2 linked regions of the Homo sapiens genome follow. The protein of the gene in region 2 purifies or fractionates together with the protein of the main gene of each other region. This does not show direct contact. Each region holds a gene or a part of one and is shown on either strand. Other genes may lie near its edges.

Region 1 (3,278 bases), on a different chromosome or scaffold from region 2:
TCCCCTGGCAGGAGCACCACACCCTGCTATTGACCAAGAGCCTGCACGATGGTGGTCTCTGGAGACCCTCGCCCCAGCCTGGGAGGCAGCCACACAACAAGGCCCCCCGCAGTGTGGGCTGGAAGACACTGACAGCCTGCGGCGGCAGGAGCGAGGGTACCCAGCATGTTGACATTTGCCAGTTTCCTTGATGTAGAGACTGCTGCCAAGGTCACGTTCAGGCTACCATCATGTCACCTGGTGCAAAAATGCCTGAAACCTTAACAGTTGGCTGTCAGGAGCTACATTTAACCATCCGCGCTGTCATGAGCCTGCTGGGAGCCTGCACAAGCCGGCTCTGCACCCTCTGCGGGGCTCACGCAGGTTCAGCTCCTGCAGCCCTTCCGGGGCCACAGCTGTGGATCCACAGGTCCCTCAGCTCCATGGCACTGCAAGGTCTGGGGGAGGGGGAGGCTCGGGGTTTGGGCCGCAGAGTTGCCGACGACAGAATCCACACTTGCTGACTGAAGCACGAAGAGCTTTACTGAGGGCTCACAGAAGGGCCGAGAGACAACAGAAACAGACACCGGCACAGGCTGGGCCAGCAGCATGGCCCGCTCACACCTGCCTCTCCAGGTTACACAGTTCAGGATCCAAGTCCTGTGCAAATGCATCTGACTGGCGAACAGAAATCCCATCAAGAACAGCTGCAGGGAGACTGGGGTCACGGTTTTCAGCTCCTGGCCACTGCGGTCCAGGAAGGCCAGCCAGACCAGGCCTAAGCCAATCCCCCACATCCTCCATGAGGGGACCTGCCAAGAGCGTCCAGGACTCCGCGCCGCCCTCCGTGCTATGTGCTGTGGGGCCAGCTGCCTCCCAGCCATGGACCACACCTGCTCAGAGTTCCTTAGAAGCCGGGCTCCTTGCCTTGCTGCCTTGGCTCTGGTGACCTCTGCATTTTGCAGACACCCGGGAGGAGCTGCCCAAGACGGCAGCCCCACTCCAGACCCTGTCTGATGGGCCGTGCACGTCTGCACATTCCACAGAATGTGACCAGCTGTGGAGCTCAATACAAAATGGCCCTCTGCTGGCCGGGCCCTGACTTCAGCCTGGACACTCGTCCCCATGTCCTGCCCAGATGATCACTGGGCAGAGCCGGAGATTCCTGGCTGCTTTGGTTATGAAACACATGTCCAGGTTTAGCCCAACCTCATATGCAGTTTACACTCTCATCTACCCTCCCTGTAGGCAAGGCTGGGGGCCCCAGGCTCTGTGGCGGGAGGTGGTCCCCGGTTCCCCTCCTGCCAGCAGCCCCTGCAGAGGAGGCCGGGGGTCTCTCAGGGCCAGATTCCACTTCCCCAGGGCCCTTCATGAGAGGAGCCTCCTCACTCACCCACAGCTGCCAGCACAACCCACTCCCCACTGCCTGTCACGCAACCCCCGGCAGGCCCACGCCCCGCACCCATAGCCTCCAGCCAGCTCCTGTGGGGCCTGCGCCGTGAGTGGGCCTGGGAGTCTCCCTGGCCTCAGTGGCCTTCCTGCCCCAGGGGGCCCCACCCCACCAGGGATGGTCCTGTGGATCAGGATGGCTCTGCTGGTGGCTATACCAGCTCTGGGCCCATCCCCCACTGCTGGACCCCACCCCGCACAAGGAAGCCTCTGGGCAGGCATCTGGGGCTCCAAAGCCCAACAGGAAACCAGCAGGGAGAGGGCCCGGCCTGGGCTCCTCTCCTAGGGTTAGGAGTTAGCTTTAGAGTTGGAGTTAGGGCTGGGTTGGGTTAGGTTAAGGGTTAGTATCAGGGTTAGGGTGAGGATTGGGTCAGGGGTTAGCATCAGGGTTAGGGTGAGAGTTGAGTCAGGGGTTAGCATCAGGGTTAGGATTGGGTCGGGTCAGGGGTTAGCATTAGGGTTAGGGCGAGGATTGGGTTAGGGTGGGGGATGGTTTAGGGGTTAGCATTAGAGTTAGGGTTGGGTTGGGGTTCAGGCTCTGCCTCCCATGATGCCCAGGTAGGTTCCCGGGGTGAAAGTGGTGAATGGGCGGCATCAGGAAGCTAAGCCCTGCCCATCCAGTCTGGCTGGAAGATTCTGGCTCCCCGGTGGCCCAGGAGTCACAGAATACCCCCAATTTCCTATCCCCTCCCCCTGCCTTGTCTCGCAAGGCCGAGACCTCCACCATGTCCACACTGTGAACTGAGACATTCCCTTTGTCCCCGCCTCACCGCTATCAACACTGGTGGCCTGGCTGGTGTGGGGCTGAGCCCACGGCCTCTGCAGATGTGGGAAACTCTTGCAATCAGTGCAGCATGGAGGCAGAGGGGCTGATTTGGCCTGGGCATCCCAACGGGCAGCAGGTCCCAGGGTGCACATGCTCACATCTGGGCTGCAAAGAACTGAGTCACAGGGAGAGGCGGGGTGCTCTGGGGCAGGCAGCGATGTCATCTCAGGGGTGCTCCGCCACCCCTCCTTCCGCAAGTGTCCATCATGGGCTCCAGGCCCCGCCAGTAAAGAGGTCACAAGATGGGAGAGGAGGGGACGGCAGAGAAAGGAAGTGGAGGGAAGGGCAAGGGAGGGGAGGACATTAGAGGGCAGGAAGGGGAGGGCTGTACCCCGGGAGCGCTGAGGACTTGCAAGCACCCACGGTGGGAGCTCCAGTGAGCATGAAGGAGCTTTGGGGTCCCACAGTGTTGGGGTCTCTATGGTCTTCCTTAGAGGGGAGGTGCTTTCACCTATGTTGGTGGGGCAGGGGGCACAGTAAGGCCAGGACGGTGGGCAGCTCATGGACCTGACTGAGCTCACAGTGCAGGGGACAGGGCCTCCGGTGTCCTCCTGGTCCTCTCCCCATCTCCTCCTCCCAGCAGGAGGTGGACAGGGGCCCAGCAGACCTTCACCAAGGAGAAGGCCAGACCCTGGGCTGAGGCAGCCCAGCAAATTGGGGCAGGGAGGGACGGGCCTGCCCCTGCCCTGTGCACCTCCTGAAGGGCCACGTCTGGGTGATGTCCAGTGTCTGGGCTGATTCTAGGGTAAGGACAAATGAAGAGTCCCCTGGCAGCAGGGAAAGGGCACCCCAAAATGCGAGATGGGACTGGCTGGCACCCACAGGACACAGGGCTGAGGAGAGGCCCTGCCTTCACCACCCAGGCCTCAGTTCACACTCTCCTTGGGACCTGGGGTCATGCGTGCTGGGCAAACCCACCACAGGCACCCTGGCATGGAGAAGGGGTGGCAGGAGGACGCCAATCACCATGTGACCCTAGGCCTGCTGGCCAGGCCAGCAACAGTTCACCTGCCCTACCTGCATC
Region 2 (4,125 bases):
CGTGTGCGGCAGTGCACCAGCGCCTCCGTGGGCAGCATGTGCCAGTCCGTCACCACCTCCGGCGGGAAGGCCACCAGGTACCAGGTGCACAGTGCGACCTCCACCAGCATGGCCAGCAGCACCACCAGCCAGGCCCAGGGCCCCCGCAGGCAGCCACTCAGCCGGTCTGCCCAGCTCAGAGGCAGTTCTGACTCCACGAAGATCTCGGCCGCCTGCAGGAAGAGTGTGCTCAGGCAGCCCGTGAGCGGGAGGTGGGACAAGGGCTGCTGGGCCAGGCATCGGGCAGGGCTGGGCTGGCCAGGGAACAGGAGGACGCTGAGGCAGACCAGGCCCAGGCACACCAGGCCAAAGCAGGCCAGGGGCCCCCCCGAGGCCTGAACCAGTGGGCTGTCCCGATGGTGAACGAACAGCCCCAAAGCAGCCAGCACAAGGCCCAGCGCCAGGCTCAGCAGCAGGAGCAGCAGCAGCACAGCCGGCTCGCCCCATGCCAGGAACCGAGACCTGCGGCGGAAGCAGCGTGTGCTTCGCTCCGGGGACCACTCATCCTGGCCACAAAAGGTGCAGGCGATGTCGTCTGTGAGAGAGGAGAAGGGCGCTGGGTGTTCGTCTTGTACCCTGTGGGCTCTGGTCTCAGAGTCAGGACTTGGCAGGACCCTCCCCTGCTGCGTTCCCACCCCCGCCTGCCGGGAAGGCGGCTCACCTGGGTTTTGCCGGTAGCTGCCCGCCTCGCAGTCCACACAGTCGTAGCAGCAGGAGTGGAACCCCTTGACCCGGCGCACCTGGCCCTCCTGGCACTGCCGCGAGCACCGGGACACGGGCTTCTGCGCACAGGCCTGGGGTCTGGCTCTGCTCGGCTGGGCATGCCCACGGGAGACTGGAACGGCCCCCACCCCCAGGCTGCGCCCTGCCGCGGGGGCTACCACGGGCACGCCTGGCACACCCACCCTCACCTCACCTGGTTGTCAGACGTGTGCCAGCGGATCTTCAGGCGCTCTGTCCTGAGGCTGCCGTTGAACCTGCCCACGTCGTGGAGCCTGGGCACTGAGCCCTGCCACACCCACAGCTTCAGGTCGTACTCCATGTCCACGTTTCCGCTGCTGTCGAACCGCAGCGGCAGCCCGCCCACGTGGAAGGTCAGGTTGTACATGTTCTCCAGGAGCTGCGGGCGGGGGACGGGGCTGAGCCGCCAGCCACCTCCAGCTCAGGCGTGGTGGCCGTGCCTGGTGGCCTGGGCACATGCAGAGGACAGCACACCCCCATCTCCCGGGCTCACCTGCCAGGGCTTCACGGGGTCCTGCGCGGGGCAGCCTGAGGCGTTGCACTGAAGAGTGTTGTGCAGGGCCTGGGCCACGCTATACACAGCTGCGTAGACAGAGAACGTCTGGTGGTGATTTAGCCCTGCGCTCACGTTCTGCAGCGTGATGCAGTCACACTGCGGGCAGCGCTGGCCCACCACGTCCTCCTCCAGACCCTGCTCCCTCTCGCCCAGGGCAGAGCAGAAGGCCGGGTCGGTGGCCAGGGCCAGGTGCGTCTTCACGTACTGGGGGAACTCGTGCAGCTGGGCACCCCTCTGGAGGAAGCCAAGCACCGTGCCCATCTGGGCCATGCCGGGCAGCCCCATGACCAGGTCAGAGGTCAGCCAGGCCTCGCTGGCCACCCACACCTTGGGCGAGAGCCTGCTGCTGATGCTGTAGTTGAAGAGGGCGTGGGCGGCGTGCACGGAGGCGAACAGCAGCACCACCTGCACGCTGCTCTGGTTCACCTGGTGCAGGACGTCCTGCACCTTCCCCAGCCGCGAGTCATCGGCACGGGGCAGCGGCACCAGGCCCTCGTGCGCGATGCAGATGCCGCGTGCCGCGGCCAGGGCCGAGAAGATGCTCAGGCCCTGCCGGCCGTACTCGTCGTCGCTGCCCAGGGCGGCCACCCAGTTCCAGCCGAACTCCTGCAGCAGCTCCGCGGCGGCCGTCAGCTGCACACGGTCGCTGGGCACGGTGCGGAAGAAGGAGGGGAAGGTCTCCCGGGCGCTCAGCAGCTCCATGCTAGCACCGTAGCTGACCTGCAAGGGCCAAGAGGCATCTCCTGACACAGGGGCTCCCACGGGCAGGGCTGGGTGGGGGTGGGTGATGGTGGGGGGCGCCCACCTGGGGCATGAGGAAGAAGCTGAAGAACTTGCCGGTGACCATGGCGAGCTCTGACGAGTGGGGCCCGATGACAGCCAGCACACGGGGCTGGTACTGCGTGTAGTTGCAGTAGGCGGCGATGTCGCGGCTGCCTGCCTTGGCCAGGAACATGAGGCTGGGCTTCATGGCCACCACAGGCTCCGAGCACGTATCAAAGAGGTCGTAGCCCAGGCGCAGCCCGGGCAGCAGATCCGACTTGTTGTTGATCTCCTCCACGGCCATTTTCATGGCCAGTGCCCAGAGCAGGCCGTTTGAGGAGAACCTGGGGCCACACAGAACCGCAGATGGCCACCTCGGCCCCAGCTCAGGAGCACCCCAGACCTGGTCACCCTGACCCCGACCCAGGCCGTCCCACCTCTGTACCTGGTGCACACAGGGCTGCTGGGCCGTGTCCGGCTGCGGAGGCCAGCCTCCTCGGCCTCGCCCAGGGGGAACAGCCCCCCCAGCACGTAGTCCCCCTTCATCCTAAGTTGCTGTGACAGGCACAATGGGGCCCCCGTCCCAGGGTGCAGGAGAGCCCAGAGGCTGAGGCCCAGGACAGCAGGGCCCAGCATGGCAGAGGCAACTTCCAACAGGCACGGCAGGTGGCTGCCCCGACTGGGGCCTCACATGGAGTGAGCCCGGGGCGGGGAGCGGGCAGAGGATTTGTTTAGCAAAACCCTTGCCATCCTCACTTGCCACACCCTGGGGCCCCAGTGGTGTCCTCGCTTCCTGGGCCTGAAAGTTTGTGCGCGTCAGACTCTGCCTGAGGCCACTGCCAGGCTCTATGGCCAGCGTTGACCGGCAGGCAGGCTCTGCTCAGTTGCTGGCCGTGGCCTTGTTCCCTGCCTGTGGCTGAGCCCCTTGCCACCCCCCGATTCCTGGAGTTGCCCAGCAGGCTGTGGAGAGGAGAGGGGGCAAAGGGGCCTCCAGGGCTCTGAGGTCTCAGCTGCGTGGGAGGGATGCAGAGACACCCAGCCCTGGGGCTTTTCATAAGCACAGAAATGCCTCCTACCCAGCCCCGGGAGCTTCTGGCTCCCACTCAAGGCTGTGCTGGCCGGAGCCGGGGGCAGCAGGGATGGGCCCCCTAGGCCTGCAGACCAGTCAGGCCAGTGGGCAGCCGGCCAGCCAGGCCTCCACCCTGCAGCTGGGGAGGGCCCTGGGGTGGTGGTGCTGCCCTCCCAGTCTGCTTGGGAGCAGAGTTCCTTGAGGGTCTCAGCCCTTCTGCCAGAGTCTGACGCCTGGAAGCTGTAGGAACCGCATGGCCAGCTGTACTCACACTGCTGACCCCCGTCTGGGCCACTCCTGCGTGGCAGGCACACAGGTGGCTCCTGCTGGGGGTAGAGTTTGTTTGCCAGGGGGGCACGCAAACAAGGGAGGAAGGGCCACAGGCAAATGAGCGGCAGCTGGAGCAGCACCAGGTGTGCAGGGCCGGGACTCCTCTGCCTCTGTGTTGCTTTGGGGGTGCCCTCGGGGACACAGCAGACTCCAGGCGCAGGCCCTCCCAGGGGAACTGGGGGGCACTCAGCTTCAGCTAGGGCCTGGCAGACCTAGCAGATACCAGGAGGTGTGCCCTGGCTGGTGCTTCTTCCCCATGGTGTTGTGAGGAGGACCTGTGAGGGACACACACTACCACCGCACATGCATATGGCACATGCTGAGCACACGTGAATATGGCGCACATGCGAACCTGGCACACGAGCACAGGAATGCGGCACACACACAAACGGCACATGCGCATGGTACACGCGAATGGCACATGCACGGCACACGTGCATGGGACACGCACGGCACACGCAAGGAACACATGCATGGCATGCAAACGGCACACATGCATGCCACACGTGCACAGCATACATGCAAATGGCACACGTGTACGGTGCACACGAATGGCACATGCGCATGGTACACACAAATGGCACACGCACGGCAAGTGCATGGCACACGCGCATGGCACACACAAAAC

The links. The genes of interacting proteins can lie anywhere in the genome.
Region 1: the proteins of TAS1R3 (region 2) and LRRC3 purify together in Homo sapiens (affinity purification with mass spectrometry; one large-scale study listed by BioGRID and IntAct). This does not show direct contact.

Annotation. Positions count from the first base shown.
Region 1 is NC_000021.9:44,459,419-44,462,696, reverse strand, and holds the end of LRRC3 (leucine-rich repeat-containing protein 3 precursor), read right to left. Parts: 3' UTR 501-3,278; downstream 1-500.
Region 2 is NC_000001.11:1,329,955-1,334,079, reverse strand, and holds the start of TAS1R3 (taste receptor type 1 member 3 precursor), read right to left. Parts: upstream 2,801-4,125; 5' UTR 2,735-2,800; coding exon 2,544-2,734; intron 2,443-2,543; coding exon 2,142-2,442; intron 2,057-2,141; coding exon 1,274-2,056; intron 1,160-1,273; coding exon 956-1,159; intron 822-955; coding exon 701-821; coding exon of another isoform or gene 575-700; coding exon 1-574. UniProt on the Homo sapiens protein: Putative taste receptor. TAS1R1/TAS1R3 responds to the umami taste stimulus (the taste of monosodium glutamate). TAS1R2/TAS1R3 recognizes diverse natural and synthetic sweeteners.